Linked DNA regions of Homo sapiens: region 1 is linked to region 2. The links come from fine-mapping of genetic effects on gene expression. A gene starts in region 2. The other region holds a variant in brackets. All regions are shown on one strand. Distances are from middle to middle.

Region 1 (3,030 bases), 30 kb before region 2:
TCTTATGTATTGGGTTATATGTTTTGTATTTTTGTTGTTGAGTTCCGGGAGTTATTTATATATTCTGGATATTAATCCCATTCCAGATATATGATTTGCAAATATTTTCTCCCATTCTGTAGTTGTCTTTTACTGTCTTGATAATGTCCTTTGATATACAAATATTTTGATGAAGTCAAATTTATCTACTCTTTCTTTTGTTTCTTGTGCTTTTGGTGTCCTGAAAATCTACTACTGAACTCAAGATTATAACAGCTTATTCCTATGTTGTCTTCTAAGAGTTTTGTTTTAAGACTTTATTATTTTAGAGGAGTTTTAGGTTCACAGCAAAATTAGGTGGAAGATACAAAAATTTCCCATGTGCCTTTTATCCTACGTATGCACAGCCTCCCCCACTATCAAAATATCTCATGAGAGTGGTGCATACAATTAATGAACCTACCTTGACACACCATAATCACCCAAAGTTCGTAGTTTACCTTAGAATTCACACTTTGTGTTGTATATTCTACAGGTTTAAACAAATGTATCCATCATTGCAGTATTATACAGAATCTTTTCACTGCCCTAAAAAAATCTTCTGTGTATTCAAAGATTTTACGATCATTGATCCATGAGTTAACTTTTATATATGATGTGAGGTAAGGGTCCAACTTCATTCTCTTGCATATTGAAATCCAATTGTCTTTGCACTGTTTGTGGAAAAGACTATTACTTCCTCCCTTGAATGAACTTGGCATCTATGTCAAAAATAAATTGGCCATACTGGGCACGGTGGCTCATGCCTGTAATCCCAGCACTTTGGGAGGCTGAAGTGGGCAGATCATGAGGTCAGGAGATTGAGACCATCCTGGCTAACATGGTGAAACCCTGTCTCTACTAAAAATACAAAAAAATTAGCCAAGTGTGGTGGTGGGCGCCTGTAGTCTCAGCTACTTGGGAGGCTGAGGCAGGAGAATGGTGTGAACCCGGGAGGTGGAGCTTGCAGTGAGCTGAGATCATGCCACTGCACTCCAGCCTGGGTGACAGAGCAAGACTCCATCTCAAAAATAAATAAAATAATAAAATAAAATAAAATAAAATAAAATAAAATAAAATAAAATAAATTGGCCATAGATGTATGGGTTTATTTCTGGACTCTCATTCTATTACATTGGTTTATATGTTTATATCTAGGCCAGTACCACATTGTTTTGCTTTTTGTAACTTTGTAAGCTTTGAAATTAGGAAGTGTGACTCCTCCAAATTTGTTTTTCTTTTTAAAGATTGTTTTGACTATTCCAGGGCCCTTGCAATTGCCTATGAATTTGAGGATTGACTTTTTCATTTCTGCAGCAAAGGCTGCTGGAATTGTGAAAGCGATTTTATTGAATCTATGTATTGCTTCAGGTACTATTAACAGCTTAACAGTATTAAGTCTTCTAATCTGTGAACACAAAATGTCTTTCCATTTATTTCTTTAATTTCTTTCTTTAATTTCCTACAGCAAAGTTTTGTAGTTTTCACTGTACAATTCTTTCACCCACTTAGTTACATTTATCTCTAGGTGTTTATTCTTTTAGAAGTTGTTATAAATGGAATTGCTTTAATTTTCTTTTTTGATTGTTTATTGCTGGTATATAGGAACACAACTGAGTTTTTTGTGTTAATCTTGTAGCCTGTGATTTTGCTGGATTTGTATTCCTGTCGACTCTAGAATTTTCTATATA[T/C]AGGATCATGTCCTCACAAATAGAGATAGTACTACTTTTTCCTTTTTCATTTGAATGCCTGTCCTTTCTTTTTCTTGTTTAATTTTTGTGGCTAGAACTTATAATGTTGAATAGAAGGAATGAAAGTGGGCATCCTTGTCTTGTTAGGAGGAAATCTAAAAAATCTTAAAGGAGAAAGCTTCACTATTGAGTATGCTGTTAGCTGTGGGTTTTTTATAATTGCTCTTTATCATATTTAGGCAGTTCCTTTCTATTTCCTAGTTTTCTGGGTTTAAAAAAATCATGAAAGGGGGTTGAAAATGCCTTTTCTGCATCAATTGAGATGAGCATGCATCTTTTCCCCTTGTTATATTAATTTAATTGATCTGTTACATTGATTATTTCAAAATTTTGAGCCACCTTTGCATCCTGGGGTAAATCCTACTGAGTCATGGTGTATAATTATTTTAATGTGTCATTTGATTTGGTTTGCTAGTATTTTGTTGAAGTTTTTGCATCTCTATTCATATGGGATATTGGTCTATACTTTTCTTCTGATGTCTTTTTCTAGTTTGACATCTGGGTTATGATGTCCTTATAATATGAGTTCCCATAAAAAGTATTCCCTCCTCTATTTCAAGGATGGGAGGAAGAGTTTATAGAGAATTGGTGTTAATTCTTTAAATGTTTAGTATAATTTACCAGTGAAGCCATCTGGTCTTGGACATATCTTTGTTAGGAGGTTTTGATTACTGATTCAATCTCCTGTTTTATATTTGTTGAGATTTTCTATTTCTTCATGAGTCACTTCAGGTAATTTGTGTGTTTCCAGAAATTCATCAATTTCATCTAGGTTATCTAATTTGTTGGCATACAGTTGTTCATAGTATTCTCTTATAATTTTTTATTTCTGTAAAATCTGTACTAATACCTCCACTTTCATTTCTTATTTTAGTTATATGTGTCTTCTCTCTTTTTGGTTTGCTGCTTTAGCTGAAGACTTGCCAATTTTGTGGCACTTTTTAACAAGCCAACATTTGGGTTTATTGATTCTTTTTTTTTTTTTTAAACGAAGACTCGCTCCTTCGCCAGGCTGGAGTGCAATGGCATGATCTCGGCTCACTGCAATCTCCACCTCCTGGGTTCAAGTGATTCTCCTGCCTCAGCCTCCCAAGTAGCTGGGACTACAGGTGTATGCCACCAAACGCAGCTAACTTTTATATTTTTAGTAGAGACGGGGTTTCACCATGTTGGCCAGGATGGTCTCGATCTTTTGACCTCGTGATCCACCCGCCTTGGCCTCCCAAAGTGCTGAGACTACAGGCGCAAGCCACCGCACCTG
Region 2 (2,714 bases):
ACAGATAAAAAGAAAGCAAATACATGTATTTCCGATCAATAATACGGAGTAATATGATAGTGACTGGAGGACCAACCTGGAATTGGGTGGTTAGGAAAAGCCTCTTAGGAGAGATGGCATTTGGGCTGATACCTCAGCGATAACAGGCAGGTATGCAGAGAGCTGGGGATCCAGGTGTCTGGATAGAGAGCACAGCCCAGCAAGCCTGACAGGCTCAAGGAACAGACAGGAGACCAGCATGTGTGTAACTCGCTTAGCAAGAAGATAAAATGAAGTCAGCAGGGGTGAGCCAGGGCACGTCAGATTGACGCATGTACTCATTCAGCAAATATTTATTAAGCACCTACTATGTTCAGGACATTGTTGAGGATACATAAATTAAGAAGAAAAACCACTGGCTCAAGGATTCTGTCGCTGGAGAGAAACTTCAGAGTTTAATAACGTTGATAGAACACCCAAAACAATTCTGCTACAGTTTAGAAATTGATCCATTCCAGACAGAACCACAATGCAGACATTAAGGGACACACATCATCTAAGGCCGTGAGGTCTGAGGTCAGAGATCCAGCCATCTGCTCCCCCAGGGTAGGGAGGTCGGGCCTCCCCGGGGTGAGTCACGTAGCCCACCTCTCCCCACCAGGCGAGGCTTCTCGGTCTTGGTGCATGGGGCAGGGCCGCAGGAAATCCCCCAGCCTAAATCTGCCGCACTCAGAAAACCCAGGCAGGGGAGCCCCCAGAGACCAGGCCTCTGATTAGCACCTGATTCACGGAGGCAGCCAAGGCTGGGTAGCGACTGCTGGTAACTGGCCCCCGGAGTCGCCCCAGGGGAAAAGGCCAAAGGGGGATCTGGAGACCCCCGGCCGGGGAGCGGGCTCCGAGACGAGCGCAGCCGCCCGGTCAGGGCAGCGCCTGCGCGTCCGCCAGGCCCCGCCGCGCAGCCTCGGGTGTCCCGGCGGGGCGGCTCGGGCCGCGCACGCGCTCTGGCCTCCGGGGCCGGCCGCCTGGGAGCCCGAGCCTAGTGCCTCCCACGCCCGGCGGCCGCGAGCCGGGGTCCGCGAGGGCGGAGTGGGGCGCGGCAGCCAGGAACCCGACTACGAATCCCAGGGTGCGGGCGGGCGGAGCGAGGAGGGACGCTGGGCCTGCCCGGTGCGCACGGGGGCGGGGACCGGCAAGGCGGGACCATTTCCCGGCATAGGCTCCGGTGCCCCTGCCCGGCTCCCGCCGGGAAGTTCTAGGCCGCCGCACAGAAAGCCCTGCCCTCCACGCCGGGTCTCTGGAGCGCCCTGGGTTGCCCGGCCGGTCCCTGCCGCTGACTTGTTGACACTGCGAGCACTCAGTCCCTCCCGCGCGCCTCCTCCCCGCCCGCCCCGCCGCTCCTCCTCCCTGTAACATGCCATAGTGCGCCTGCGACCACACGGCCGGGGCGCTAGCGTTCGCCTTCAGCCACCATGGGGAATGGGATGAACAAGGTAACGTCTTCCCTCGTTCGCGCTGGGTTTGCCTCCGCTCCGACGCCCTGCCGTCTCGCCGGCGTCGGCTGCCCGACGACTCGAGCCCGGGGTGCCCTTTCCCGCGGTGGGGACGGGCGCGGAGGGAGGGGCGGCGCGCCTGGGCGGCGACCGCGGAGTCGGGGTTCGGAGGTGTTCCCGCCCCCACCCCACCCGGCTTCCGGGTAGGCAGCCCCCAGCCGCCTGCCTTGCCAGCCGGTGCGTTTTCGTGGCTGAAACAAGCCGCGCCCTTTGAAAGCGTTGACACTTGTTCTGCCGAGAGGTCAGCTGAGCTCCGAATGGATGTGGCTTCTTTTTTGCCCTCCTCTTCGCTCCCAAACTACGCTCTTGAAGCCACCACCGCCCCCCCCACATCATTAGTAAACGGGTGTCCTCTGTAATTTCCTCTTTCTCCTCAGATTCTGTGTGTGTGCCTGTGAGCACAGAGAAGTTTTTCTTGTGGACAGAGAAGTTAACAGAGTCCTAAGTCCTGAGCTGTTTCTAGATAGTGGGGAGGAGAGAAAAGATTCAGAGTTGATTAGGTTATGTGACTTCTGCAACAAGGGCAACCTGTTGCTGGCTGCTTGCGCTGATGAGGCCTTCTGGAAAATCTGTGTTGCTCCATTTGTCCCGTCCGTTTCTGGGCCCCACCCTGTGTTCTTTTGTTGCCCGCACCTCACTTCCCGGGCGGTGGGCTAGCCTTTCCCGTCCAGGGAAGTTGCCAGATTCCAGCTCTGGCAGCTGAGAGTTGCCGGGGTGTATTCATGTGAACCACAGGGTTAAGGATTTTGTTACTTGGTACTTGGCTGGTTTCGAGGAAGGATTGACAAGACTTTACAAAGCCCGCAACAAAGACAAGTACCTTTTTACGGGTCTTTGAATGGTCCTGGATTAGATGAGTCGTCTTTCTGCTTCACTTTTTCATTGCGCTCCACCCACCCACATCTCTACATGCCGTCAGCTTCCACACTGGGTGGGGATGGCAATGTGGCTGTGTTTTTTTTCATGTCCCTCAGCACTGGGTCAGCAGTGGTTTGGGTGTTGGGGCTGGAGTGTTGCAAATGCGGATTCACGGTAGGGCAGGGAAAACCTAGCTAACTTTTCACGTGCGCATGTCGTGTTTATTGTGTCCTGGTTACCCAGTTTGTGAAAGAACTATTGTGTGTTTGGGACCTGCATATCAATACTGGGGTATTTTGGTAAAGAGAATTGTATTCACTTTTTTTT

What was found. PIP is the estimated chance that this variant, and not a neighbour inherited with it, causes the effect. A credible set is the group of variants that fine-mapping cannot tell apart.
Region 1: its variant is the best candidate, but not a certain one, in a credible set for the expression of DUSP22 in whole blood (INTERVAL, PIP 0.54).

What each region holds. Positions count from the first base shown.
Region 1 is chr6:260,968-263,997 of GRCh38, forward strand. No RefSeq gene overlaps it. Among named protein-coding and RNA genes, the nearest start is that of DUSP22, 30 kb to the right of the region's middle. The variant T/C (reference allele first, on the strand shown) is at 1,710.
Region 2 is chr6:291,092-293,805 of GRCh38, forward strand. It overlaps DUSP22 (dual specificity phosphatase 22), which reads left to right and starts at 1,396. Exons shown (of 7, transcript NM_001286555.3): 1 at 1,396-1,469. The coding sequence starts at 1,449. RefSeq lists enhancers at 359-648, 575-1,075, 1,076-1,576, 1,869-2,128 and silencers at 759-1,778, 2,523-2,679, 2,559-2,618, 2,629-2,688.